Homo sapiens: one gene and its partners. Each later gene encodes a partner of the first gene's protein in a complex. Each region holds a gene or a part of one and is shown in the gene's direction. Other genes may lie near its edges.

What was found.
Region 2: GPS2 (region 1) and CORO2A share a complex: the UniProt entries of both Homo sapiens proteins name them as parts of the N-Cor repressor complex.
Region 3: GPS2 (region 1) and HDAC3 share a complex: the UniProt entries of both Homo sapiens proteins name them as parts of the N-Cor repressor complex.
Region 4: GPS2 (region 1) and TBL1XR1 share a complex: the UniProt entries of both Homo sapiens proteins name them as parts of the N-Cor repressor complex.

Annotation. Positions count from the first base shown.
Region 1 is NC_000017.11:7,312,357-7,319,640, reverse strand, and holds GPS2 (G protein pathway suppressor 2), read left to right. Parts: upstream 1-4,280; 5' UTR 4,281-4,310; intron 4,311-4,521; 5' UTR 4,522-4,588; coding exon 4,589-4,682; intron 4,683-5,043; coding exon 5,044-5,153; intron 5,154-5,237; coding exon 5,238-5,350; intron 5,351-5,481; coding exon 5,482-5,561; intron 5,562-5,652; coding exon 5,653-5,735; intron 5,736-5,919; coding exon 5,920-6,073; intron 6,074-6,171; coding exon 6,172-6,261; intron 6,262-6,349; coding exon 6,350-6,429; intron 6,430-6,516; coding exon 6,517-6,612; intron 6,613-6,801; coding exon 6,802-6,885; 3' UTR 6,886-6,980; downstream 6,981-7,284. Other genes in the region: NEURL4 (neuralized-like protein 4), read left to right, coding at 433-591, 967-1,146, 1,285-1,372, 1,469-1,576, 1,709-1,853, 2,068-2,180, 2,271-2,436, 3,314-3,518. UniProt on the Homo sapiens protein: Key regulator of inflammation, lipid metabolism and mitochondrion homeostasis that acts by inhibiting the activity of the ubiquitin-conjugating enzyme UBE2N/Ubc13, thereby inhibiting 'Lys-63'-linked ubiquitination.
Region 2 is NC_000009.12:98,182,632-98,189,652, reverse strand, and holds part of CORO2A (coronin-2A), read left to right. Parts: intron 1-3,963; exon of another isoform or gene 3,964-4,220; intron 4,221-7,021.
Region 3 is NC_000005.10:141,626,839-141,633,859, reverse strand, and holds part of HDAC3 (histone deacetylase 3), read left to right. Parts: intron 1-3,734; coding exon 3,735-3,816; intron 3,817-3,943; coding exon 3,944-4,000; intron 4,001-4,120; coding exon 4,121-4,176; intron 4,177-4,553; coding exon 4,554-4,687; intron 4,688-5,220; coding exon 5,221-5,301; intron 5,302-5,647; exon of another isoform or gene 5,648-5,672; coding exon 5,673-5,746; intron 5,747-5,902; coding exon 5,903-5,967; intron 5,968-7,021. UniProt on the Homo sapiens protein: Histone deacetylase that catalyzes the deacetylation of lysine residues on the N-terminal part of the core histones (H2A, H2B, H3 and H4), and some other non-histone substrates.
Region 4 is NC_000003.12:177,194,471-177,202,281, reverse strand, and holds the start of TBL1XR1 (F-box-like/WD repeat-containing protein TBL1XR1), read left to right. Parts: upstream 1-4,799; 5' UTR 4,800-5,161; intron 5,162-5,803; exon of another isoform or gene 5,804-5,942; intron 5,943-7,811. UniProt on the Homo sapiens protein: F-box-like protein involved in the recruitment of the ubiquitin/19S proteasome complex to nuclear receptor-regulated transcription units. Plays an essential role in transcription activation mediated by nuclear receptors.

The DNA of each region.
Region 1 (7,284 bases):
GCAACCTCCACCTCCCGGGTTCAAGCGATTCTTCTGCCTCAGCCTCCCAAGTAGCTGGGACTACAGGCATATGACACTACGCCCGGCTAATTTTGTATTTTTAGTAGAGACGGAGTTTCACCATGTTGGTCAGGCTGGTCTCAAACTCCTGACCTCAGGTGATCCACCCACCTCAGCCTCCCAAAGTGCTGGGATTACAGTGTGGGTCACCATGCCCGGCTGGCGGTTCTTTTTTTTAAAAAAAAAAAAAAAAAAAAAAAAAAAAAGAGGGAAAGAAACAACTAAATTAGCGTTTTCTGGTCCTTCCAAGCATAAGAAAAGGCAGCATCCCAGGCCACATTCTGGGAGGTGCAGTATTCCCTCTCTGGCTGGGGTGCGGAGCCTGGTTCTTCCCAGGAGGCTGTGATTATGGAGTAGTTCTTTCTTCCCCAGGTGCGGATAGATTTCCTAAACCGACAGTGGACATCTTCCCTTGTCCTGGGAGTCATCACCTGCGCGCCTGAGAGGCTCAACTTCCCTGCTTCTGCCTGTGCCCTCAAACGGGCAGCCTGGCTGCTGCGGGGCCGTGGGGTCTTCCACAACGGTCTCAAGGTGAGTAGGAGCCAGAGAGAAGGAACAGGACCAGGCCTGTGAGTAGAGAAGGGCTGGCCAGAAGGGAGAAGTGGGCCCCTAGCCTTGGAGGTAGGACCACAGGTGTAAAAGGGGAACAGTAATGGGCAGGCAAGGGCGAGTAGCATTGCCTGGTCAGTCTTAGGCCTGCTGCTTCCTGCGGTGTCCCTGCCATTGAGAATGTGCCAGTTTTGGGGAAGGGGAGGGGCTCTAGGTAACTGCAGTGGGAGGAGAACCTCGGCAGTGGGCAAGCATGGAGGCAAAGCCAAGGCACTGGCAAAAGGAAGCAGAGCAAAGGGCGGGACAGCTGCCGCGGTGGAGTCTGACCTCTGGAAGACAGCCGGTCTCTCCTCCCAGATCTGCGAGAAGTTTGGGCCCAATCTGGACACGTGCCCTGAAGGCACCATCCTGGGACTGCGGCTGGACAGCTCTGGGGGGCTGCATCTTCATGTTAATGGGGTGGACCAGGGGGTAGCTGTGCCAGATGTGCCCCAGCCCTGCCATGCGCTTGTGGACCTCTATGGGCAGTGTGAGCAGGTTAGTGGCAGTGGGGGCAGGGAGGAGGGGTGCCTGAGAGTCTGCGCTGTCCAGGACAGGGGAAATCTCTGTTCCAGGGAGGGATCAGCAGGCCCTGGGGTCTGACCAAGCTCTGTCTGACTACCCTCTCCCCTGCAGGTGACAATCGTGAACCCTGAGCCAGGGGCTGCCAGTGGGAAAAGTGCTGGAACCCAAGGGGACATGGAGAAAGCAGACATGGTGGACGGTGTGCCAGCCCAAAGGGACCCAGCTCCTGCCCCTACTCCCCCACCCTCACCCTTCTAGCCCAGCTCCTGTGACCTGTGCCCCTCTGCTCCCTCAGGTATCAAAGAGAGTGTGTGCTGGGGTCCACCACCTGCCGCTAGTCCTCTAAAGAGCTGCGAGTACCATGCCCTTTGCTCTCGCTTCCAAGAACTCCTGCTGCTTCCCGGTGAGTCCCACAGTCCGCCAGAACTGACTTCATTCCCAGGGCCAGGCCTAGAGCCTTGGAGAGCAGCTGGAGGGTGCCACTGTGGTTGAGGTGGGAGCCACAGCACCAAGCCTGCTACTCACTGTCCCGCAGAAGATTATTTCATGCCTCCGCCAAAGCGAAGCCTGTGCTACTGTGAGTCTTGCCGGAAGCTGCGAGGAGACGAGGCCCACAGGCGCAGAGGGGAGCCTCCCCGGGAATATGCACTGCCCTTTGGCTGGTGCAGGTTCAACCTCAGGTACATATGGGCAAGGTCATGCCTTTCCCCTACTGTTTTCCCCCTGGAGAAACGGGGATCCCAAGAGGGTGCATGGAAGAAGTAATAGAACTTCCTGTCTAAGGAAAAGCCAGGAAGTGCCAGGGACTTCCTGTCTAAGGAAGAGCCTCGTGAAGCTCCTCCACTGGGGAGTCAGTGGCCTTCGTTGTATCTGCCCCGCTTGTCCACCTCCTAGAGTGAATCCCCGCCTGGAGGCTGGGACACTAACCAAGAAGTGGCACATGGCATATCACGGGAGCAATGTTGCCGCTGTACGGAGAGTGCTGGACCGAGGGGAGCTGGGAGCAGGTACTGGCGAGTAGGCCCATGCAAGGTGGGCTGAGCCTGGGGGGCTGTGGAGGAATAAAAAGGGCTATCCTGACCCAGTTCTCCTCCCAGGTACTGCCTCCATCCTGAGCTGCCGTCCTTTGAAGGGAGAACCTGGGGTAGGGTTCGAGGAGCCTGGCGAGAACTGTGCACCTCCTCGGGAGGAGCAGCCCCCTCCTGTGCTGCTTTCCCCCTCCCTTCAATATGCTGGGGCGGAGACCCTGGCCTCCAAAGTGCAGTGAGTACTGGGAGGGGTGGGGAGAGATTTCCAGGGGCTCGGATGGAGAGGGCCCAAGCGCAGCCACTGGGGTCTTCATGATTCGCCCTCCCCTTTTCTCATCTCGTCTTGCTAGCTGCCAGTCTCCAACTCAGCCCTTTCTTCATTCATTGAACAAATACTACTTATATACTCTTCTAGTGGGCAAAAAAAGGAACCTTGCTCTTGTGGAACTTCTGCCTTTTCTCTCTACAATGTTCATACGTAATAAGTATTATTTATTTATTTATTTTTATTTTTATTTTTTTTGAGACGGAGTCCTGCTCTGTCACCCAGGCTGGAGTGCAGTGGCGTGATCTCACTGCAACCTCCACCTCCTGGGTTCAAGCGATTCTCCTGCCTCAGCCTCCTGAGTAGCTGGGACTACAGGCACGCACCACCAAGCCCGGATAATTTTTGTATTTTTAGTAGAGACGGGGTTTCGCCATGTTGGCCAGGATGGTCTCGATCTCCTGACCTCGTGATCCGCCCACCTCGGCCTCCCAAAGGGCTGGGACAGGCGTGAGCCACCGCGCCCCGCCAGTATTTAGTATTTTTAAAGGTAATAAGTAAGGACTATGGAAACAGAGAAAGAATGGGGCGGAGACAGCAGTGCGGTTGGTGTGGACATCCTAAGAAGGTGGGAGAGATTCGAGCAAAGGCTTGAAGAAGGAAGTGAAGGGTGTAGCTGAGCAGGCTTTGGGAGGAAGAGCATTTCAGGTAGAACAGCTAGAGCGAAGTTCCCATAAGGTGGGAGTATTTCCTAGGTACAGCAAGGCTTGTGTGGTTGGAACAGACTTTGCAAGGGGGAGGTGATGGGGCGAGAGGCTTCACTCCCTTATTTTTTCTTGTCTGACAGATTCCGGGACCCCAAATCCCAGCGGACGCACCAGGCTCAGGTGGCGTTCCAGGTGTGTGTGCGCCCTGGCTCCTACACCCCGGGACCCCCTTCCGCTGCCCTTGGAGAACCTCCTGACCCTCACTTCAGTCCAGCCGAACTTGAGTGGGTCACTAAGGAGAAGGGGGCCACACTCCTCTGTGCCCTGCTGGTACGGGTGGAATGAGGGGTGAGACACCACTACTACAAGCACAGTCGGGCCGCGGGCCCATGGACTCTGAGTGGCGACTGCCTCCACCTCATTCCCGTGACTCGTGGCATGCGCAGGTGCTGGAGCTTGGCAGCCGCGCAGGAGCATGTAGGCAGGCTCTCAGATGTAGGTGGCAAGTGGCACAGCTCCATGTCCGGAGGCCCAGCACTCCGTCTGATGGGAGGAGTCGTGGGAGCCCAGCTCCAGGCCCTGGTACCCCTCTTCATGCACTGATTTGGGGAACATGACTCCCTTTTACTCCCCTACCCCACATCACTTAATTTATTTCCGTTTTTGTTTCTGGTTACTGTGAATCCCAGAGGAGTCTCTCCCTGTGCCCACATGAAGCTGCTTTTTCCGGGGCCACCGGGCGGGAGTGGGGAAGGGTGGGCGCACGGAAGATGGGGGCCTCTGTACAGTTGTTACTGACTCTGATTTCTAAGGAGCCAATAAACACCGTCTCAGAGCCTCCGCCTCGGCCTCTCTCTCGCGCGCCCCTCTCCGGAGCCCGCGTCCCCTGGGGTGCCACCAGGTGGGCCCGCGAAATTAAAGAGAGCTGAGGATGCCAAGGCCAGTCTGCAGCCGTCGTCGCTCACGTTCCCGGCGACGGGGTTTGTACGCCGCGGGCACCCGTCGCAGCGCGCTTCCGCCTTCTTTCACCTGTGAGGTCGGCCGCCGCCGTGACTCCGGAAGGACTCGGCCGGGCCGCCGGATGTGACGCAGGGGCCAGGGCGCGTCGGAGCCGCTGAGAAAGCGCAGAGAAGGCGGGTAGGAAGGGCAGTCGTCCGCGCTGGCTGGGCAGGGAGCGGCAGCAGCGAGCCGGGGACCCCGGCGCCGCCCGCGCGCGGTGGGACTGGGGCTGCGGTCCCGGCCGGGTGGCGGGCTCCTGGGACACGTGACCGGGGCGGCGAGCGGGCCGGGCGGACGGGCTTCCGCCTGGGCCGGGCGCGGCCCCCTCTGAGCGCCCGCCTCCCCGCAGGCCCCGTCTGAGGTCTGGCAGTCAGAGACAGCCGGGCGCCCACGGCCCGAGCGCCCACGGCAGCACCATGCCCGCACTCCTGGAGCGCCCCAAGCTTTCCAACGCCATGGCCAGGGCGCTGCACCGGCACATTATGATGGAGCGGGAGCGCAAGCGGCAGGGTGAGCCGGGGCCATAGCAGGGGGACGCACGGCCCAGAATGGCTCCTGTACCTCAAGGCTGGCCTCAACCCACCGGCCAACCAGCGCGCCCGCTGCCGAGCGCAGAGGAGGGAAGGAATAGCCCCGTTGTGGTGGGATTTAAGCGTCCTGTTCCACGCTCCAGAACCCTTGAGATGGGAAGGACCTTGGAGAGCACCTGATAAAGCCTTTCCGTTCCCTATTGCCGCGATGGGGAGCTTGTCCCCTCGAGGCAAAGAGCATACAGGCGTGTTGGGATGACTGGGTTTTGCTGGTCTTCAATCTGTAACGTTGGAATTGTTTTCACTACCCTGCCTCTTCTTCATTCTGCCTGATTCTCCAGAGGAAGAAGAGGTGGATAAGATGATGGAACAGAAGATGAAGGAAGAACAGGAGAGAAGGAAGAAAAAGGAGATGGAAGAGAGAATGTCATTAGAGGAGACCAAGGAACAAGTAAGCAGTCCCTTGAACTTTCCCAGCTTTGATTTCTTCGTTTGACTCTCCCTGCCTTCATCTTCTTTTCCCACCCCATCCCAGATTCTGAAGTTGGAGGAGAAGCTTTTGGCTCTACAGGAAGAGAAGCACCAGCTTTTCCTGCAGCTCAAGAAAGTTTTACATGAGGAAGAAAAACGGAGGCGAAAGGAACAGAGGTGGGATCAGAGTGCTAAAAACTGAAATGGGGGCCAAGTGGAACTGGGATCAGGTAGTAAAAGAACCAGTGTTTAATGGCAAAAGAGAAGGCATCTGTCCTTGACTTTGACCTGTCTTCCTTTCACTCCAGTGACCTGACCACCCTAACATCAGCTGCATACCAGCAGAGCCTGACTGTTCACACAGGAACTCATCTCCTCAGCATGCAGGGTGAGGACTAAAGAAACCACCAGATGGAACCGGCCTTCTTGGAGGTCACAGCCTCCCATTTCAGCATCATGAAGCCCTTCTCCCTTTCTAGGGAGCCCTGGAGGACACAATCGCCCAGGCACCCTCATGGCAGCTGACAGAGCCAAACAAATGTTTGGACCCCAAGTGCTTACGGTGAGAGTAGGATTGGATGCCTAGCCCCTAGTACTTCCATCCATGCATCCTTGCCACCAGTATTCAAGTCACAAACATATCAAGCACTTAAGTTTAGGGGGAAACGGGGCATACAGATACACACAAGTCACTGGGTTTCAGCTTTCAAGGAGTTTGTAGGCGAGTTCTCATTCTCCTTCCTTAGACCCGGCACTACGTGGGCTCAGCAGCTGCTTTTGCAGGGACACCAGAGCATGGACAATTCCAAGGCAGTCCTGGTGGTGCCTATGGGACTGCTCAGCCCCCACCTCACTATGGGCCCACACAGCCAGCTTATAGTCCTAGTCAGCAGCTCAGAGGTGAGTAATAGGAGGGATGGGGCTTGGCCTTCCTCAAGGTCAAAGGAGGAATGCCATTCAGTAAAAGATTTTAATGGCTCTGTCTTTTCCTTTCTCAGCTCCTTCGGCATTCCCTGCAGTGCAGTACCTATCTCAGCCACAGCCACAGCCCTATGCTGTGCATGGCCACTTTCAGCCCACTCAGACAGGTGATAACATCCCATGCAGGAGCTCTAGCTCTCAGGTCCTCCCCTCCCTGTTTCATTCTCATCTCACATGCCCCTCTTCCCCACCTAGGTTTCCTCCAGCCTGGTGGTGCCCTGTCCTTGCAAAAGCAGATGGAACATGCTAACCAGCAGACTGGCTTCTCCGACTCAGTGAGTATGGCACCTTGGGAGGTCAGGGTTAGGGATATGTTAAGGGGAGCTTCAGTATGCCTCAGGCCCTGACTCTGTTCTCTGCAGTCCTCTCTGCGCCCCATGCACCCCCAGGCTCTGCATCCAGCCCCTGGACTCCTTGCTTCCCCCCAGCTCCCTGTGCAGATGCAGCCAGCAGGAAAGGTAAGAATGGTAATAGAATTTACCTGTCAGAATCCCTACACTAGGGATCCGGAAAAGCAGGATTAGGTAGGACAGGTGGCCCACATCATCTGGTTTTTCCTTCCTCTTTGGGGGTGGTTATCAGTAGGGTATTAAGTGGAAGGGAGAGTATGCCCAGTGACAAAGCCCTCTTTTCATCACCACCACCAGTCGGGCTTTGCAGCTACCAGCCAACCTGGCCCTCGGCTCCCCTTCATCCAACACAGCCAGAACCCGCGATTCTACCACAAGTGACCATCAGATTATATCTTCAACACCACACCCCCCACCCCATCGTGGGTGAGGGTATCCCCTGTGTGTCCCAGGCCAATAAAATCTACCTGCCACTGCCCCTGGCTGCTGCTGTTTGTGTTGCCTCCCACCCAACTGTCTGGAATAGGTCAAGGTTGCTTGGAGGGTGGGGGGATGGCTGGCAGGTCCACAGCAAGTCAAAGTGATAGACAGCGGGTTCCAGTGAACTCAGTGGCAGAGTTCAGTCTTTTTGTGGCTTCCAAATACACCCATTTAATTCAAATAAGCAGCTGAGTTGGGGGCTTCATATTAAACTTGTAGTTTTATTCAGGTTTGATTTTAACAAATGTGTCGGGGAGAGAGCCCGCAGGGAAGGGTAAAGCCCATGGGGGCAGGGCCCTC
Region 2 (7,021 bases), on another chromosome or scaffold:
CCTCTCTGGACCTCACTTTCTCCATCTGTGAAATGGGGGTAGACTCAGCAGTTGCTGAATTTGTTTGAGCTCTGACAGCCAACCTCTTAGAGTGAACAAATCTCAGTAGCAAAGCCGAGATTGGAAGGAGATTCATTAAATGAATCCCCTTAGAGGCAGGTAGCTAGCTCCCCACCGAGGGGTTTCAGCCTTAAACCTTTGCTATTTCAAAATGGCCAGAAGCTGGATCGTTTTAGAAGTTGGTGTGTTTTTATCTTCTCTGCCAAATCTCAGGAGGTCCAGAAAATAATTCAGCAGAATCTTCTTGTGTTTTAAGTCTATAATCCATGCCTTGCCTCCTTCAGAACAGATTGGACGTGCTTTGCAATCACACCTGGTCTAAAGGGCCAGGAGTAGGTGACTTTGCTTCTGTGGTCAAACTGTGCCTCCTGGGGGTCTGCAGGCTGCTATGGGAAACTTACTAGGTTAAACCACATGAAACGGCCAGTATGTGACTTTTTTTGACTTACAAGAAATGGCAATTTCATTTGGTTCAGCCTAAATGGAAAAAGATATACAGGTATTTAAAGAGCGGTGTGCTCCTTACTATAATTGAGAGATTGGCAGGGTGTGGTGGGGACAAGGAAGGTGTGATTATGAGCTTGCAGAAGTCAAGGAGGAGGGACATGGGAGCCTCACTTTGAAGAATCACTAACAGTAATAATAATAGCTAACATTCATTGAGGGTTTACCGCCTGCCTAATTCTGTCCTAAGTGCTTTATGTTCATTCATTCCATTAGTCATTCAGCCAGTATTTATTAAGCACCTACATTGTACTAGTTTTTTTGTTTGTTTCTTTTGTTTTGTTTTTGTTGTTGTTTTTTGTTGTTGTTGTTGTTTTCTGAGACAGAGTCTCGCTCTGTCTCCCAGGCTGAAGTGCAGTGGCATGATCCCGGCTCACGGCAACCTCCGCCTCTGCCTCCTGGGTTCAAGTGATTCTCATGCCTCAGCCTCCTGAGTAGCTGGGATTACAGGTGCGTGCCACCACACCAGCTAGTTTTTGTATTTTCAGTAGAGACGGTGTTTCGCCATGTTGGCCAGGCTGGACTCGAACTCCTGACCTCAAATGATCCGCTTGTCTCGGCCTCCCAAAGTGCTGGGATTACAGATGTGAGCCAACACACCTGACCTGTACTAGGTATTTTCTAAGTGCTGGGGAAAGGGGGAAGGCGCTGATATTAAACAAAATAGACCAGAAAGATCTTCCCCCAAAGAGCTTACAATCAGATGGGGGGAAGACAGATGAAAAACAATAAATAAAATAGATGAATAGGTGATAAATAAAATCAGTGATAAATGAGGTGGAGCAAATAGAACATAGGAGGGGTTAGGGTGTGTGAGGGGGCAGTTTTAACTAGGGTGGGCTGGGGGCCTCATTGAGAAGGTGATTTTTAGGCAAAGGCTTGAAGGAGAGGGGTGAGTCAGGCTCATTTCTGGGGAAACAGCCATTCAGGTGGAGGGAACAGCTGGGGCAAAAGCCCTGAGGCAGGACCATGCCTGGCATGTTCAGAGAAGCACGAGCTGGGACAGAGTGATGGCGGGAGAAGAGGAAGAGAGGAGCAGGCAGGCCCTGGGCTAGACTGTGTACCCCACCATGCTCATAATGGAATCCTGCGAGTGTATGACGGAGCTACTCTTTTTATCCCGCTTTTCCAATTAAGAAAACAAAAATACAGAAAAGTTACATGGCTTATTGAAACTGTGTCTCATGGAGAATCTAGGACTTTCAGCCAGGGTCAGCGGGGAGCCATGGAAGGCTTTTGAATTGGGTAGGAACATGGCCAGATTTGAATATTGGTGTGATTCCTGCGAGATTGCTATGGTCTGAATATTTATGTTCCTCCAAAGCTCATATGTTGAAATCTTACCCCATAAGGTGATGGTATTAAGAGGTGGGGCTTTTGAGAGGGAATTAGGTCAGGAAGGCAGAGCCCTCATAATGGGATTAGTGTTCTTATAAAAGAGGCCCCAGAGAGACCCTCACCTCCTCCACCACATGAGGACACAGTAAGAAGGCGCCATTCTATGACCCAGGAAGTGGGCCCTCACCAGACTCCAAATCTGCTGTCTTAGTCTTGGACTTCCATCCTCCTGAACTGTGAGAAATACATTTCTATTGTTGATAAAGCACCTACATTTTTTTTTTTTTTTTTTGAGATGGAGTTTCGCCCAGCCGCCTAGGCTGGAGTGCAGTGGTGTGATCTTGGCTCACTGCAGCCACCGTCTCCCGGGTTCAAGTGATTCTCCCATCTCAGCCTCCTGAGTAGCTGGGATTATAGGTATCCGCCATCATGCCTGGCTAATTTTTTTTTTTTTTTTTTTTTTTTTTTGAGATGGAGTCTTGCTCTGTCGCCCAGGGTGGAGTGCAGCAGCACGATCTCGGCTCACTGCAAGCTCCACCTCCCGGGTTCATGCTATTCCCCTGCCTCAGCCTCCCCAGTAGCTGGGACTACAGGCGCCCACCACCACGCCCGGCTAATTTTGTTTTTGTGTTTTCAGTAGAGACGGGGTTTCACAGTGTTAGCCAGGATGGCCTCAATCTCCTGACCTCATGATCTGCCCCCCTCAGCCTCCCAAAGTGCTGGGATTACAGGCGTGAGCCACCGCGCCTGGCCAAAGCACCCAATTTATGATATTTTGTTGTAGCTGCAGCAACGGACGAAGACAGGTGCAGAGAGATGGCTGTAGAAATAGTCCAGGCCTGGAGTGCTGCTGTGGGACCTGGGCAGTGAGCTCAGTGCTAGGGGAGAGGTTGGGGTCCAGGCCAGGTGAGCAGGAGGAGGATGAGGAGGAAGCCAGGCTGACCCTGGGCTTATATATTTAACAAACACTTATTAGCACTTCTTACCACCATCTAATATTTTATATACGTTAACCCAATCCCCATAACAACCTATAGGGTACATACTGTTTGTTATTATTTCTCCCGTTTTAAAATGGATATATTATATGTAAATGATATCTCATGAAGTTAATTTACAAAGAAAATACATTTTTAAAATTATAAACACTTGATAATGGAGAATTTCAGAAAAAGGCAGGAAAACAGACAAAATAAATTACCCATATCTTCTCCTCTTCTCATCCCACATAATCAATATGAACATTTACTTTCAGTCTTTTTTGTACTATCATTCCCATTTTATAGATGACAACACTGAGCCCCAGGGAAGTTGGGTAGCTAGCCCAGGATCATACATTCAATCTATGTCATCTGCCACCAGTGTCCAGGGCTTAATCACCTTCCCCTGCTGCCTGTAGTCCATCCCTGGAATGTCAGAGTTGGTGGGTTCCATTAAGATACCATCCCCCAAACCTAGCCCCTCCCCCCGCCAGCCACCCCTCTCCTGGCATCATTTCACAGATAGGTAAAGTAAGGCCCAATAAGAGATGGGGCCTTGCTCAGCATCTGTCAGCCAGTCAGGAGCAGATAGGTGAAGTCTCATTCAAATAAGAAATCGGGAGCTGAGCATTTGTGCAGGGTTGATATGACAGCTGCTTCTAGCCTGGCCTTGAGCCTGGAGTTTGTAGGGGCCCTGGCAAATGGCATGACCCTGCCCACAGGCAGTGCAGGGGCAGGCGTGTGTTCCCTGGGCCCAAGAGTCTTGTCCCTCTAGCCAGCCCTGGGTGGGAGGTGAGTTTGGGGCTTTGCCCACACTGCAGGTCCCCTGAGAGTTGTCTCCTGTACTCTGACTGTGCATTTATTTCTGGCTCTGGTGCCAGCAAACTCCTGGGGCTGCCTGCTGCCAGGGATGCAGCCCTGGCTTCTAGCCCCATCTCAGACACTGAGTGGCCTTGGGCCAGGGTCTCTCCTGGCCCACCTGCAAAATGGCATCATAACGGCCCCAGCCACAGGATGAAGTAAGAAGTGCAAGGGAAGTTCTTGCACAGGGCGTGGTCTATGGCGTGCTCAATAACTGGGCAACTCCTGTGGCTGTTCCTAAGGCTGCACCACGGTGTTGGCCCAGGCTGGGGAATTGAGCCCACTGCAGACAGAGCCCCCTCCTGCCAACCTCCCTTTCACACCTGGCTGACCAGGTAGACCTGCCTGAGAAATCAGATACGAGCCTCCAGCAATGGTTTGGAGTCTAAGATTGCGGACAACAAGGGATGCAGTGGAGCAAAAGAACCCAGGCCTCTGAAGAAGGAGAGCTGACCCCGCTGCTGATATGCTCCTTAGGCAAGTCTTGACCCTTCTTTATGACTCAGTGTCCTCATCTGTAAAAGGGGAAGAATAATTCCTGCCTTAGTCATTGTAATGATCTTCACCCCAGCAACCACCTATTGATGTTTTTCTAATGCTTGGGGAGTGTGAATGCAGACAAGCTAGACCCATCACAGCCGTGAGGGCCCATGGCCTGGCAGGGGCACTACAGTTATCATAGGGAAGCCCAGGAGCTGTGGGGCCTCCAGGAGGGCACCTAACCCAGCCTGGGGTGGAAGTGGGGGGTCATGGAAGGCTCCCTAGAGGAGCTGATGCCTGAGCTGGGTTGTTAGTGTGATTTGGAGACGGCCAGACTATGAAGGGTAGAAAAATAAGGGAAGATATTGGGTCAGTCACTCCACTTCTCTAAGCGTCAGTTTCTTCATTTATAAAATGAGGATAATAAATACCTGTTCTGCCTAATGTATAAGCTTGTTGTAAGGCTCTAAATTGGATAAAAGTAAGGAGGCGCTTTATGAACTACAAAATGCCAGGCACCTACCTATTCATTATTCATTGTGATTTCTGGAGCCCCTAGGGGTTAGGGAAATATCAGGCCAGCATCTGGGGCTGGGAGAACTTTCAGTTGGTTTTGAAAGGGCTACAATCAAATCGGACAGAGACAGACAGCCGCCATTAACCACACACCCCTTGATTTAAGTGCTCTGGAGTATTTCTGTGCCTGGGTGTGGCTTTGTTTGGTGGGGTCCCCGAAGGCAGCCATGGCCCCATCACAGATCACAGCCCCACTCTGAGGATGAGGAGGAACAACGTCAGACCCAAAGCACTACGTCCCTGTAGAGGCCTGGGACCTGCCAGGGATAGGGATAGAGGACGGGAGCACTGTGGGGCCGCCATGAAGAAACCAGTCTGTTTAGAGAGAGGGCCACCATGTCACGGTAAGAGAAAGAGTAGTATGTGTGGAATGAGACTGTTTGGGTTTGGATATGAGAAAAGAATCTTTCCCTAGCATGCAGACATAGCAAAATATTCAGACAGACATCAAGCTAATTATCACTAGGTGGTAGAATTTTGTTTTCTTTGGTCTTTTCTACATTTAAAATGTTTTGGCTGGGCATGGTGGCTCCTCCTGGTAATCCCAGCACTTTGGGAAGCCAGGAGTTTGAGACCAGCCTGGGCAACAAAGTAAGACATTGCCTCTATTAAAAAAAAAAATAAAATAAAATAATTTTATACTTGATAGATAATTTATTTCTGTAAAGATTTTGGTGATATGTGTGCAGTCATTCCTAAATATTCAGCTTCCAGGACACCCAAGGATATCAAAATCTGTGGATATTCAAATCCCTGATATAAAATAGTATAGTGTTTACATGTAACCTACACACACCCTCCTGTATACTTTAAGTCATCTATAGATCACTTACAATGCCTAACACAATGTAAATGCTATGTAACTAGTTATTATACTGTATATACATATTTTTAAGACAGAGTCTTGCTGTGTCACCCAGGCTGGAGTGTAGTGGCACAATCTCAGCTCACTGCAAACTCCGCCTCCCGGGTTCAAGTGATTCTTGTGCCTCAGCCTCCCAAGTAGCTGGGATCACAGGCATGCACTACCACACCCAGCTAATTTTTTACATTTTTAGTAGAGATGGGGTTTCGCTATGTTGGCCAGGCTGGTCTCGAACTCTTGATCTCAAGTAATCTGCCCGCCTCAGCCTCCCAAAATACTGGGATTACAGGTGCAAGCCACCATGCCTGGCCCATTGTACTGTATTTTTAAATTTGTATTTTTTAATTGTTGTATTGTTATTTTTCCTTAATTTTTTCGAATATTTTCCATCTGAGGTTGGTTGAATCTACAGATGCAGGACCCACAGATACAGAGGGCCAACTATGTATGCAATACAAGTTATAATGATATTTAGATAATAAAATACTCAGGCCGGTCTGACATCAGCAGGCTGCAGGGATGAAGTCAGCACTCACAGCATAAGGACTTTGGTAAGGCCTGGATGACATCCCCAGTGCTGGCCTTCGGAACAGTTGGGAGCAGAGTCCAAGGATGGCTTGATGGAGTCACACTGGAGGAGATGTCTGTGGGGGTTTCTGAAGGTGGGAACTAGGACTCTTTTCTTGGGACAAAGACTTGGGGTTTTGGGTGGCTGCAAGCACAGTAGCATTGTGACCAAACTGTCCAACTGTGGAACCTACCACATCAGTAGCAACAGAGGGTTGGAGGCAGAGGTGAGGGTCCTGCTGAAGTTTGGGCCGCTTTCTGAGCAAGACTAGGACAGCTGAGACAGATCCAGAGGGGCGCCAGGCCGGGGAAGGGCCTGAGCCTTCAAATTCCGTGAAGCTCTGGAGATCCAGGGTGAATGCTAGGCCTCAATAGACCCTTGTCCCTTAACGATTTGTGTTCTTGGTCTTTGATCCCATCTCACAGGCGTTTCAGCCTCTTTGCAAGGGAAGTAAAGAATCTAAGCTACTGCGGTATTTCATTCAAGGCAGGGCTTATCTGTTGTGAGATGTACCCTTATTTTAGAATCCATTAAGAAAGAAAAAGCAACAGAAACTGTAAGTTGCATCCCAGTTTCAGAGATGTTAAAATGTAAAAAGCTGTCTTGGAATCATTTGACATGTGGCGGGTCCCCAATTAGACTCTTAGTGTGCATTCACTCATGGAATCTTCACCATCGCATTGTAGCTAGATAGTCTTGTCCTCTTTTTACAGATAAGGAGGCAGGAGCCCAGAGAGGTTGAGTAAATTTGCAAGGTCACGCAGCCAGCAAGAGGCAAAGCTGGGCTTT
Region 3 (7,021 bases), on another chromosome or scaffold:
AATGGCCACTCTTTTTTTTTTTTTTTTTTTTTTTGAGACAGAGTCTCACTCTGTAGCCCAGGCTGGAGTGCAGTGGTGCAGTCTTGGCTCACTGCAACCTCTGCCTCCTGGGTTCAAGCGATTCTCATGCCTCAGACTCCCGAGTAGCTGGGATTACAGGCGCCTGCCACCATGCCTGGCTAATTTTTGTATGTTTAGTAGAGATGGGGTTTCACTATGTTGGTCAGGCTGGTTTTGAACTCCTGACCTCAGGTGATCCACCAGCCTCAGCCTCCAAAAGTGCTGGGATTACAGACGTGAGCCATCGCACCCAGCTGAGCAAGTGGCCACTCTTACTTCATCTATACTCCCTCATGTTAGATTGTTTTAAAGCAGATCCTAGATGTTATATCCTTTTATCCATAAATATTTTATTATGTATCTCTAAATGATACTCTTTTAAAAAAACATAGTATCATTATCAAACCTAAAAAGTTAACAGTGATTCCTTAATGTCATCAAATATGGGATCAATATTCAAATTTCTGCAGTTGTCTCATAATTATTTTGTAGCTAATTTAAATCCAGATCTAAACAAGGTCTATACAGTGCATTTGGTTGATATGTCTCTTAAGACTTTTAATTTGTAGCTTTTCTGTCACCCCCTTGAATTTATTTCTTGAAGAAACCAGGTTGTTGATCCTGTAGAATTTCTTATGATAGCTACCATTTACTGAGTGCTTACTCTGCTAGGTATTATGCCAAGGGTTGCTGGTAAATCCACTTAATTCTCATACCAATCCTTAGATGTATTATAATAGACCTTTTTCTGATGTTATATATAAGTAAATTGAGGTTTGGGAATATCTAGGTAACTTAGCCGTAGTCACATAACTGGTCATTGGAGGGGGCATGATCCAGATCCCGGGTTTTTAAACCACTAATCTGTTTTCCTGAAAGATCTTAATGACAGAAGCAGCCAGGGCTGTAGGATAGAGGCCAACTCATTAGGCTGGCATTGGCACCTTTCCAACTTTATCCCTACACCTCAGCTGCACAGGATGCCTTCCTGGAATGCCCTTAGTTCTCTATTCAACCTCTTCAAGGCCTTCTCAGCCTTCACACCATCTCCATGAAACCTTTCTTGACCACACCAGCCCATAGAGCTCTGTCTTGCACACACTGCACTGCTCATTTGGTGTTCAGTCACATGCTGTTTGGGGAGGTTTCTTGTTTTTTTGTTAGTATTCCTGCTGTTATTTCTGAGCTCACTTTCTAGCTCTGTGAATACAGGGTCAGCCCTTACGCCACACTGGGGTCCCGTAGATGCTCTTTGTGCGATTAGGGAATGCTAATTAGAATACTATCTCTGGGCTATTTATGCTGCATCAGTCTTCCTGTCAAACAAGTTACAGTTGTGCTTATCTGTATTTCCGATGAGAATCAGGAATTTTTCTTCTGTTTAATGAATTTCTGATTGGTTTCAAAGTATTCTAACATAAGTAGCCAAATTGTACTATAGGCCTTTAAATGAAAAAAATAAAAAAGTAGTCCCAAGCCGGGCGCAGTGGCTCACGCCTGTAATCCCAGCACTTTCGGAGGCCGAGGCGGGTGGACCACCTAAGGTCAGGAGTTCAAGACCAGCCTGGCCAACATGGTGAAACCCCATCTCTACTAAAAATACAAAAATTAGTCATGTGTGGTGGCACGTGCCTGTAGTCCCAGCTACTCCAGGAGGCTGAGGCAGGAGAATTGCTTGAACCCGGGAGTTGGAGGTTGCAGTGACCTGAGATTGCACCACTGCACTCCAGCCTGGGCAACAGAGTGAGACTCTGTCTTAAAAAAAAAAAAAAAAAAAAATTCCAGACCTCTCCTTTTCACCCATAAATCCCTCTGCCCAGTGACAGCCACTTTCAGCTCCTTTCCCCTATGTCTTCTGGTATTTACCTTTGGATTTCTAAATAATAATATTAATTGACTGTTATTACTAATCTGTAATCCTTAGGTAATACCTGTTATATACTAGGTACTGTTCTAAGTGCTTTACAGCCATTAGCTTATTTAATCTCAACAACCCCTATGAAGCAGGGTCTATTATTGTTTCCTTTTACCGATGAGGACACTTAAGCACAGAAAGGTTAAACAGTTTGTACAACCTCACTATCATTAGTAGGTGTTAAAGAACCTAGGTAGTCTAGCTCCAGAATCGGTGCTTGTAATCATACTCCCCTCCTGTATTGTCTCTCATTGCTATTTCTTCGTCTGTCAATTTTAGGCATTATCTGTTAAGCTTTTAGTATGGGATATGAGCATTTAGTCTTCTTACACCATCACATTGGCTTCCTTTCCCCTTTCAGCTTCATAGTAATTTAAAAATAAATCAGTATTCTGTGTTTACATTATTATAACTCTGAAAGATTCATTTACTATCAAGCCAAATAGTGTAGTGTGATTTAATCTATTTTCTTCTAAAGCTTTTTGTTTTTCCTGGAGCTGACAATTGCATTATTTTTTCATTTGCTTAGTTTTCTGGTATTAATCACTAATTCTTTCCAAGCCTTTTGAGAAACTATAAAACCCTACAATTCTTGCTTGAACCCGGGAGGCGGAGGCTGCAGTGAGCCGAGATCGCACCATTGCACCCCAGCCTGGGCGACAGAGCAAGACCCCATCTCAAAAAACAAACAAACAAAAAACCCCTACAGTTCTGTTTTTCACATGGTCAAATGTATCAGCTGCACTATTTTTTTTTTTTGAGACCTAAAACTAGGGATTGCCTAAGCCTTTCCTTTTTAAAAAGTCAGGTTTATATAGGTATAACTTGCATACAGTAAAATTAACCTTTTTTAGGTGTAAGAGTTCTGAGAGGTTTGATAGAATATATCAAGGTATAGGGCCAGCGCCGATGGCTCACACCTGTAGTCCCAACAATTTGGGAGGCCAAGGCGGGAGGATCACTTAGGCCCAGGAGTTTGAGACCAGCTTGGGCAACATAGTGAGACCCTGTCTCTACAAAAAAAAAAAAAAAAAAGGTATCAAGGTACAGGAAATTTCCACTACCCAACAAAGGTCACTCACCCTTTTGTAGTTAATAACTTCTCTGCAACCTAGATCCAGCCAACTACTGATAAGATGTCTGTCCTTGTATTTTACCTTTTCCAGAATGTTACATAAATGGAGTCATACAGTAAGTAGGCTTTTGTGTCTGGCTTCAAGCCTTTACTTTTTATAAAGAATAACAATGGTAATAATTATAGCTGACATTTATTAAAGGCTGAGCGGATACTGTATACTGTGCTACAGGCTTTTCGTGGGTTATCTCATCACTGTTTCACATATGTAGGTATACAGTTCTTTCTTTAAAATATGTGACTGAAAAATATTATTGAACATTATGCTAAAATTTGTTACACTGAGAAGACTAAGAAAAACAGAGCTCATGTTTTCTTTCAACTGATTTCCTTTTTACATTGTACTTGAGTACCTGGAAGCTGCTTGCTTCTTTCCGCAGCTAGGATACAAACTCCCTGACAGTTAAGTGCTTCTTTACTTCCCATCCAGTGCCTTGCACAGGGCTTGGTACATGGTTTGGTCCAAAATATTTGTTGAATAAATTTGCAGATAGCCCACGTGTGTAGGAGAGGGAGAGAAGGTTCTTGAAAAATGGAGATTGGAGGAATCTAGGATGGGGAGGGAGATATGGGAAGGGCCCAGACAGAGGCAGGAGGGTTCCAACTTGTTCCTCTTCCCTGCAGCCCAGTGTTTCCCGGGCTCTTTGAGTTCTGCTCGCGTTACACAGGCGCATCTCTGCAAGGAGCAACCCAGCTGAACAACAAGGTGACATAGTCCCGAGTCCTGTTCTTCCTTTCCTCTGGATCCCTGGACTCGGGATTTAACCCTGATCCTGGGCTCCCAGCTTGAGGGGTGGGCAGGAAGGACTGTGACTTAGGTGTTTGTCTTTCAGATCTGTGATATTGCCATTAACTGGGCTGGTGGTCTGCACCATGCCAAGAAGTTTGAGGTGAGTGAGGAGGTGATGGGAAAGACAGTGGCCATCCTAGGGTAGGTGTTTAGGATGATGGTGGGGGGCAGCTGGGAGGGGAATTGCTCTTCTCTTTATGAGACCACTGTCTTGCCATAGGCCTCTGGCTTCTGCTATGTCAACGACATTGTGATTGGCATCCTGGAGCTGCTCAAGTAAGTAGCCCAGGAGGAGATGGGGGCAGTTACGGGATTCTTGGCTGAGGAGGTCTCTCAGTCTCAACCCTGACCTTGACCTCCCTCCTCCCTGATTAGCTTCTCCCAAGTTCTTGATGCTTTATTCAGGCTGCCTCTTCCACTGCTGCAGATTCCCTACTGCCTGCTCACATTTCAGCCTTCTCTGCATATCCCTCTCCTGTCCCTGCCTCTAGCCTCTAGGCTGGAGCCCCCAGTTGCCTTTAGGGAACTGGTGACATTAAGTTTCAGGTGACCAGGGCAGAAGCAGACTCTTCACAATTCGAGACCCGGTGTTTGAGAGGAGTGGGTTGGGGGGTTCACTTCTAGCTCAGACCCTGGCTTTGGCTTCCCTCTAGGTACCACCCTCGGGTGCTCTACATTGACATTGACATCCACCATGGTGACGGGGTTCAAGAAGCTTTCTACCTCACTGACCGGGTCATGACGGTGTCCTTCCACAAATACGGAAATTACTTCTTCCCTGGCACAGGTATGGGAATAGGGATTACTTTCCCCTTTGCACCCTTCAGCTCTTTACTATGAGTGCCTCCTTCTCAGCCTTCTAGTCTCATCTCAGGTGTCCCCTCCTCAGAGAAGCCTTTCCTTACCACTCCAGTTATCATAATCACCTCCTTCCCCATTCCTCTGTTACATCAGCCTCATTGTTTCCCTCAGAACACTCACTGCTATTTGTGTTTATTGTGGTTTTTTGTTTTGTTTTGTTTACTGCCTCCCTCCTCCTCATGGCTATTCCCTAAGAATATAAGCGTGGTGGGATATCGTAAATTTCATTAGTTCCATTCGTTGCTGCATCCCTACTGCCTAGTACACAGTTGGCTCAGAGTGGATCCCCCAAAACTATTTGCCCAATGAATGCAAGCTGCAAGAGATTTAGTGGCTCTAGGGAGTTTATGGTGAAGCTACATAGATGGAATGAGAGGCTCCCAGAGTGCAGATTGGGGCTGAAACAGCTGGGTTGTGGGTGCTTCCCATGTGTGGCTACCACCACCCACTTCCCTACAGGTGACATGTATGAAGTCGGGGCAGAGAGTGGCCGCTACTACTGTCTGAACGTGCCCCTGCGGGATGGCATTGATGACCAGAGTAAGTACCGAAGTCTTCCCTCTGTTCCCTAGGCCCCTTCTTTTTCTCCTTGAAATAACCTCTTCTGCCTGGTATTGTCTGCTGTTGGGCCAGTTGTCCTTAAGGATGAATGGCCTTCAGAGGGACCATGAATCTCTGGAAATTGTATGCAACATATCATGTGTATGTGCATTTTTCTGGGAAAAGTCATTGGCTTTCATCAGTCACTCATAGCAGTCTGGGATCCCTTCCAGAAGTTTCAGACCAGTGATTTGATTCTTTTGGGTGGCCCCTTTCCTGGGCTACATGCTCGCTCAACCCCCTTTTTCCTTTTGTTCCCTGTCTCCCCATCCCCTTGGGGTGCCAGGTGCCCATCTTTGGCCCTCTCCCAGGTTACAAGCACCTTTTCCAGCCGGTTATCAACCAGGTAGTGGACTTCTACCAACCCACGTGCATTGTGCTCCAGGTAATACTGTCAGTTCCTCCTCAGGAGTGTTCTGCCTGGGCTTGGGGAAAGAGAGCAAGGGAAGAGGAGGTTCTTTAGGTTGGTGGTGGAAGGGGTATCTGTGATGTTCTGATCAGTTCTGATCACTGCACTTTCCTGGGGTTTTGCTTTTTGCAGTGTGGAGCTGACTCTCTGGGCTGTGATCGATTGGGCTGCTTTAACCTCAGCATCCGAGGGCATGGGTGAGACTTGCTCTCCTTCTTCTCCCCAAGGTTTTTAAGTGGCCTTGGACTTCAGTACGTGGGTGGGGGTAGTTGGGGAATGGGCCTCACCTCTTCTTGGAAATCAAAAATAGCTACAAATTGTACTTGAACTAGAAATGTCATCTTGAACAGGGTTCCCTAGATGGTCATTCATTCACGATATATTTTTATTAAGCACCTGTTATGTTCCAGGCATCATACCACATCATGGGGATGGAATAAGGAGTCTCCCATGGAGTTTACAGTTTAGGAAACAGACAAAAAATAAATAATCAAATGAAATAAATAGATTCTTATAAATTCTGTGAAAGAAAAAAAGAAAGCTGAGACACAGGATACAATGGGGGACCTACTTGAGATAGCATGGTTTCGGAAAGTTTTTCTGAGGAAGTAAAATTTGAGTTGAGACCTGGAGACTAAGAAGGAGTGAGTCATAAGAGGAGCAGAGAGAAGCCTGACCCAAGCATGGACAAAGGCCCACAAAAGGCTCTGAGGGCTGGGCCCAGTGGCACACACCTATAATCCCAACACTTCCAGAGGCCAAGGTGGGAGAATCGCCTGAGGCTAGGAGTTTGAGGCCAGCCTGGGCAACATAGTGAGAGCCATCTCTACAGAAAATAAAAAACAAAATCAGCTGGGCATGATGGTGCATGCCTATAGTCCTAGCTACTCAGGAAGCTGAGGCAGGAGGATCACTTGAGCCTAGGAGTTTGAGGTTACAGTGAACTATGATTGTGCCACTGGACTTCAGTCTGTTGAGGTGAGGTCCGAGAAGCTGGCCATGGTGAGATTGTGCAGAGCCTTTAAACCCTGGTAAGGAGTTTGAATTATATTCCAAAGATGATGGGAAACCATTGAAGGATTTTAAGCAGGAAAGTGACATGATCCAATTTGTGTTTGAAAGTGACAATTCTGACTGCTGAATAGAGAAAGGTTTGGGTAGGGGGGATGGAGATGGAAGTAGAAAGACCAGTTAGGAAGCCATGGTGTTGGTTAGGTGCCCAGACTAAGGTGGAGGGGGTGGCAATGGAGA
Region 4 (7,811 bases), on another chromosome or scaffold:
CCTGGCACACTAAACATTCAATAAACATTGAATGAATAGCAAAACCATCAATATAATACTAGGCCTTGAGTGCTTCCCTGAGAAAGTATGTGGCTGGTCAGTATAAGTAAGTGATTGTACAGCAACATGCTGTGTGTGTGGTTGGTTTTCTGTTTTGACTGAATCACAATCGCAGGATACAACCTGCTATTTTCATTATCTGAGAGGCATAAATACTTGTAAGATAGTTGTATGTTTCTTTTGCAATTTAAATGAAGACTCTCAAGTAAAGTTTATTGTTGTAATGAAATTGGGTCATAGAAGCATGGAAAACTGTGACAAGGTTCACACTGATGAGGAAAGGTCACAAGCAACACGCTATGCACTGAAGGAGAAAAGCAGCTTGTGTACTGACATCTTGAGATGTGTGGTTGGCATGTGCCTCATCTCGGAAGAACCACAAAGAATTGCACAAGGTAAGTCAAAATGAAACGGAAACATCACAGAGTATCAGCAAGACGCCTGGGGGTAAACGCTACAGACGTAAAGCCACTGAATTCCAGGGTGAGTAAAGAATATAAAATGAGTTATAGCACTAGGAGAATATTTTTGGTATCAAATGTCTTTTTTATACAATTAAGTTTGTTTTGAATACTTTATGTAGATGAGCTAATGTAAACAATTTAAAACATCATGATGATTTAAAAATATATATAGTAATGAGACCCTGTAGTCCTGGGATTGAAGCAGTTTCAATTTAAAATGTTCCATGTCTTTAGCGATGAAAGTTGCAAATGTGTAGGCTATCTTGCCATGCCACACTCCTCTCGGAAAAATATTACTGAAATAAAACAAGTCAGGATTTGTTTTTTTTTTTTTTTTTTTTTTGAGATGTAATCTCACTCTGTCACCCGCCCAGGCTGGAGTGCAATGGCAAGATCTCGGCTCACTGCAACCTCCCCCTCTCGGTTTCAAGCCATTCTTCTGCCTCAGCCTCCTGAGTAGCTAGGATTACAGGCATGTGCCACCACGCTCAGCTAATTTTTGAATTTTTAGTAGAGACGGGGTTTCACCATGTTGGTCAGGCTGGTCTCGAACTCCCGACCTCGTGATCCGCCCGCCTCGGCCTCCCAAAGTGCTGGGATTACAGGTGTGAGCCACTGCACCCGGCAAAACAAGTCAGGATTTGTTTAGCCATTTTACAATATATAGTAACTTCTGATAACAGTTACTGGTATGAGGTTTCTCTTCATTGAGTAATTAGCTAGAAAATTCAAGAGAGAACTTTTTTTTTTTGAGACGGAGTCTCACTCTGTCGCCTAGGCTGGAGTGCAGTGGCACTATCTCGGCTCACTGCAACCTCCGCCTCCAGGGTTCAAGCGATTCTCCTGCCTCAGCCTCCCAAGTAGCTGCGATTACAGGCACCCGCCACCACGCCCGACTAATATTTTGTATTTTTAGTACAGACGAGGTTTCACCATGTTGGCCAGGCTGGTCTTGAACTCCCGACCTCAAGTGATCTGCCCACCTCAGCCTCCCAAAATGCTAGGATTACAGGCGTGAACCACCACACCCAGCGGAGAACTTAATGTGTTCCTTTGCTTTACAATTTCTTAGTAATACAGTAATATCTCCTTTCTAGAAACACATTAACATTTAATTCAAAGTGTAATGGGAGTGTTAGATTAGGACAAAGTACTGAATATTAGTAACAATAGTTCCTTCTTTGTCCTTTCCTCACCCAGTGAGTCTAATCATTGCTTGTATTTTGGTGCAGCCCTGATCCTTTATGCTGGATATGTTGGGACAGCTAGAGGGCGAGGCGACAATACATATGACCTTTGAGTGATGGTTTATTTCTCTGAGTATTTAACATTGAAGCCACACTGTTGTTTCAGATAGTTTCCAGAATATAAAAATCAAAGGGATCAAAATATGATCTGATTTAAAACCCCCTTTGCTGGAAGAATCAAGGCCTTTCCACATTTGGGTGCCCCTATTTTTGTTTGTTTGTTTAAAAACACTCCAGGCTGCCGGGCACAGTGGCTCACGCCTGTAATCCCAACACTTTGGGAGGCTGAGGCAGGCAGATGACTTGAGGTCGGGAGTTTGAGACGAGCCTGACCAACATGGAGAAACCCCATCTCTACTAAAAATACAAAATTAGCCAGGCGTGGTGGTGCATGCCTGTAATCCCAACTACTCGGGAGGCTGAGACAGGAGAATCGCTTGAACCTGGGAGGCAGAGGTTGCAGTGAGCCGACATTCCGCCATTGCACTCTAGCCTGGGCGACAAGAGCGAAACTCCACCTAAAAAAAAAAAATGTACTCCTGCTCTCTCCTCTCTCTTCAATTAGTATGATCCAACAGTGGTGAGTAAAGTACATTTTACTGCAACGGATTTGTAAGTCCCCAGCCTCGATGATCTTCATATTTAAATGCAGTCATTTACGCACAGAAATGTCTTGTAAACTACAGGGATATAAACAAATGCATGGATTATTATCATTGTGAGGAGGCTCAACTAACACTGAACAACTTTAGGAGGCAGCTTGGTGTAGGGTATAAGAACTTCAGGCTGGAAGACCTGATCCTATGAACCTGAAGGAGGGTGTCTCCTCCCTTGTGGAATAAGGGATAGAAGTCATTTAGGGGAAGGAGAAGGGGTGGGGTGGGCAGCTTTGAATATGACGCTTTAAGAATGGTATGGTTGAGAAGTCCTCACTCACTGAAAGTGGGGTTTGATTTTACAGTCACTGCTGTATGGAGAGGACCCGCCCGTGGTGGCACAATATGAAACTTAAAAAATAATCTAAGCCAATAGATATGTTTCATTGAGTGGCTCCACCGAGATAGTTTACTTACTGAAGACAGGGTATGTTTAGTGATATCTACGTCATTTATCAACTCAAAAAAAAAAAAAGGAAGATACTATATACTCTTTTCAATTCTGAAATAAAGTCTTCTGAAAGGTGTTAGTTCTGAGGTAAACAAGCCTCAGCTTTAGAATCCTATTGAAATGCAAAACTTGCTTTGTGCGGTTTCCCTGTACACTCTGCATAGTGTTTTGGAAACCTGCAGTTATCTAAATTCCCATCGGGTGACATTGTTTAATCCAACATTCCCACTTTCATACATGAAAATAGCTCTAAGGACACACCACTAATATGCTTTGAACTCTCTGGTGGTTGGAAGGGAGTTTCCAATCCCACTCCCTTTCCTCTGATGGTTTTCCTGCTCCCTGCCCCACTAGGTCATTCAGGAAAGGCCTCTGGCAGCTCCCCCAAGCAAGGGCTCAGGGGGGAAAGAGACATTGACCTTGGCCAAGAAAGCACCTGTCTAATTACTGAACTTATTAGGCCACCAGGAGTCCAGACTGGTGCAAGTTACGAGTAGTGTGTGTGTGTGTGTGTGTGTGTGTGTGTGTGTGTGTGTGTCGCAAAACTTCAGGTTTCTGATATTGAGAGGAAATGATGGTTGCTTTAAAGTGATCACTACATCTATTTTCAAATATTCTGATGAAAGTAGGAAAACAGAACCCTTCACCTTTAAGAAAGCTGCAAACATTATTTTGCTTTGAAGGCAGTAATAAGCGAAATAACAAAAAGGTTTCAAGTCGTATCTTAATGTAAAAGGGTGGCTGCTTCTCCAGTCCTGAGCTTATACAAAGCTCTAAAAAGCACCCTACCCCATCTTTCTGAAAGTCTTAGAAAGATTACCACCCCATTTGCTTTAAAACCTGTGAGGTGCCTCCCTTCTTTAAAAACAACCCTCCCTCAACCATACTGCCACATTATCACTCATCTAAGTTATACTTTATAAACCGCCTTGCTGTGCTTCACACATGCAAAAAGTACACAAAGTGGATAAACTTCTACTGTGGATGCCACTGTGCAGGTATATATTTAGTAAACATTTAGTTACATTATTTTATTTTTGTGAAATAAGAACTGATCGAGCAAACCTTTCAAACAGACCCACCAGATGATAAATACCACCATATGCTTGATTCACAGTACATTTGGGCATAAATACTTCAATTACAGCTTTGTGTTTAGTATCAAAAACCTTTTCTTGTGTGCGTGTTTTCTCTCCAGATCCCGTGCTCTGGATCACATTTTGAAAGTCGCTTATTACAGATAAAGCACCTTTCCAGGTACGCTTCGGAGAACCATATGTATTTACGCACACAAAGGTGTTCACAGAGATTTTCACAAACAAATGTCCATATGATGCCGCGCCGCACTCCCCCACATGCCCGCCGCGTGTGCGCCCAGCCCCCAACGCCGCCGGGCCGCCCCCCGGACACGCGGGAGCCCGCGGCGTCCTTGGGGAAACTTCGCCGGCGGCTCCACCCCGGCCACCGCGCGGGCCTCCCCGCCCCCACCCGTCTCGGGCCCAGCGGCCCACACCCGAGCACACCCAGGCCGGCCCGCGGCGGTGGGGGCGGGGCGGGCGGCCCGGGGCCCCGAGGCGCCTTCGAGTGCCCGCGGGGCTCGCCTGATTTTTAAAAGAATGCGCCGCACAGCCCAGCCCCCAGTGCCGCCAGAGCGGGCCGGGAAGGAGAGGAGCGCGGCCGCTGGAGCCCCCCCGCCGCGCCGCCGCCGCCTCCCGGCGTCCGCGGCGCCCCTCCCCCGCCGGCCCCTCCCCCGCGCGCCCGCCCGCCCGCTCGCCCGCCCGCCCGGCGCAGGCCGCTCGGGTTTGTTTTGCTGCGCGGCCGCCGCCGCCGCCGCCGCCGCGGGCCTCGCGAGCTCATTTGTGCCTGGCTGGTCCCCATTCCTCTCTCCCCAGTGTTGAGTGTCTGAGCCGTTGGCTGCTCCGAACCGTTTGGCTCTTTCCCTTAGTAACAGCTTTTACCTTCTGCCTCAATTCCTCTCCCCGCTCGCGCCCTTCCCCCGCGCGCCGCCTCCCCCCGCCGCCGGCCGCGTGCGCCCCCGCCCCTCCCCCCGCGGCGGGAGCACCTCCGCTCGCCACCTGGGGACCCGCGCCGCGCTCCCCGCCCCCGCCCGCCCGGCGCCCATCCCCCGCGCCCTCCGCTCGCTGGGGTTATAATTGCCTCTCACCCCCCGGAGGGGTTATTTTGGGGGTGGTTGGAGGCGGTGGCGGCGGCGGCGAGGAGGGGAATTTCCTTGTGCCTCCATTCCCGGGAGGGGGGAGCGGCGTTGGAGGCCACCGTTTCCAGGTAAGCGCTGGGGGCCGGACCCTGGAGTGGGGGCGGCCGGGGGCCTGGGCGGGGGGCGCGGGCCAGAGGCGGCCGGGGGCGCTGGGCCGCGGGGGGATGGGCGCGAGTGGAACATGCATTTTTCAACTTGGCCCTTGGGGGAACTGGGCTTGCGTGGGGGAAGGGAAGGCAGGGAGGGCACTTGGGGCGCCCCCATCCCCCCGTTTTCCTCTCTCAGGTTTCTTTGAAATGCTCACGTGCCTGCCCACCCCCCTACCCTTTCCCGGTCTCGGGGGATCCTCACCCTAATTATGTTGTCCCCGAAAATGTGCACCTCGGCCTTCTCCCCCTCTTCCTCCCTTCGTGCATTTACACCCCCTTTTTGTGCGTGTGTGTTTGGGGGGGGAGGCTTTCAGGAAAGGATTTGCAGCAAATTGAATCAAGGAGCCATCATGAGGCCGACTCCTTTATAGCCTATTTTTAGCAGAGGAGAAGGAGCTTTTCGGTGCATGCTATTTTGTGAAACCTCGGGCGGCAATGGAAATCTCCCCTCCCCGGGCGCGTCCCCGGCCCGGGCGCGGCGACCCCGGCCGGCGTGCTGGGGGCTGCGGGCGGCTGTTGGGGCCGCGCGTCCGGGGCGGGGGCGCCGGCCGGGGGAGGGGCGCGCGGCAGCCGGGCCTTGCTCCGGGACGTGTTTATTTGTAACTTAGTGCTTTTTATCGTCTTAAGGAGGTATTTGGTGGAGGCTCTTTGAAGTTGGGTTCAGGAGTGTAGAATTGGCAAAGTTATTGCCAGCTTCCTGGTAAGTTTTGGGTGGCACAGAGTCACGTTATTTTCTGACAGTGTAAAGGCCACGTTGTGAGGGTGGTTTCTCGGTAACTTCCTCTTTGCAACCGATTTAATTTTTTGAACAGAAGCAGACTTTTATTTAAGTGGAATATTAATCTTAAATGGCAGCTCGAGGGAAGCCATGCATGTGTTAACGTGTTCAGTATTTTTGGAAGTTCTTAATTTGCTGAAACAGGCATCACTTCGCAGTGGCAACCGGGATTAAATTTAGGTTGTGAAAATGGTGTATTTCATGTAAAATTTGGGTTGTGGCTTTTAAAAAATGCTCTCTTTGTTAGGTTATCTAAGTGTCTCTAAGATAATTTGGTGATTACAAATGAGAAATGTTGGAAACTAGTTAAAAATTAGGTGTTCTCAGTGTCTGGAGTTTACTTGAAATCTTGGACTGTGCAGGCACCAGGGGTGAAGAGTTTTAGTACCTATGTGATTTACAGTTGACTTAGGAAAGTTTACTATTCACTTTCTTGTTTTCCAAACAGGAACCGTATGCTGATCTAAACAAGCTTGTTAATAAAATGTGGGGGGTGAAAATGCCAGGTTATTTTTAGTTTGAATTTTAAGACTGAATGGTTGCTCTACCCCCCACCTCATATAATTAAGTGATCTTCCCCCTCCGTTTTTCCTAAAGGCTTCTTCACCAGTTTGGATAATAAGGCCCTCGTGGTGTGTTCATCTACTTACCTGAAATAACTTGGAATAAATAATTTCGATTACACGTTGAAGATACAATGAGTGACTGTTTGGGTTTTCCAGTGTGATTCATTTTCATTTTTGTTAAAATAAGACCCATGCTACATTGATGTATTTTAGTAATGCCGACTTCCTGGGATTGTATGTTCTCACCATTTTAATAGTTTATAGTCTGGGGAAGTAGGGCACCTTTGTCTCCCCGAAAACATGGTGTGGGTTGGGTGGTATCATGGGAGTTGATGGCAAGCTTCCCAAATAGTTGAGAGTTCTAGAAATAGTTAGCATTTACCTGTGGGGGAGGGGCTGCAGGAAGAAAGTATGCCTGAGAGCAGTTAGGCGTGTGATGTGTGATTAGGCTTCTTGCTCTTAAATCCAGGTTTTCTTGTTTGGAATATGATTTTTTTTTTCAACCCTATCCTGCACTGAGATGTATGTAATCGCAATCATTAAATTCATAAATAACTACTATTTTTTTTGACGTTTGAGTTGTTGGAATCCGACCTACAGGACAAAATACTAAACTGTATGGGGGACGAAAACTACGTGCCTGGGAAAAGTTTTTCTTATTGCTAAGGAACTTAATAAAGTGACATGTTAATGGCATAAAAATTGTTGCAAAGCTCACCGTCAGTTTATGACATTTTTCTTTTAACGTATACCAGCTTTGGGTATTAATGTGGGAGACACTGGTGGTAAATGGAGTGACCCCTTGCAGAGATGATATTTTTGCATTGGTTGCTTCAAAGAAGTGTTAAGCATTTTAATACGTATGTCTAAGAATCTTTTTGATATTTGTATTCTCGACACCTAATTAAAGGTTTTGCATGATTACCATGACACCAGTCTCCCGAAAGAATTAGAGGTAACTGCTTCCTGTGTTCTAGGAGCCTTTCAAGCTAACAGAAGGTAATATAAATATAAGGGGTACTGATAAAAGGAAATGTATTAATAGACCTTTTGAACATCAACTTGTTGATTAAATCTATCAGTGCAGTATATATACAACCTTGTCAGACGAGTAGCTGACAAAGGAATCTCCCTAGTACAACTTGTAGCAGTACTATTATAAAGAATTCCTGACTTGACACATTTTGATGAAGTTGGTTGAAATAATTTGTTGGGTTTGTTCAAT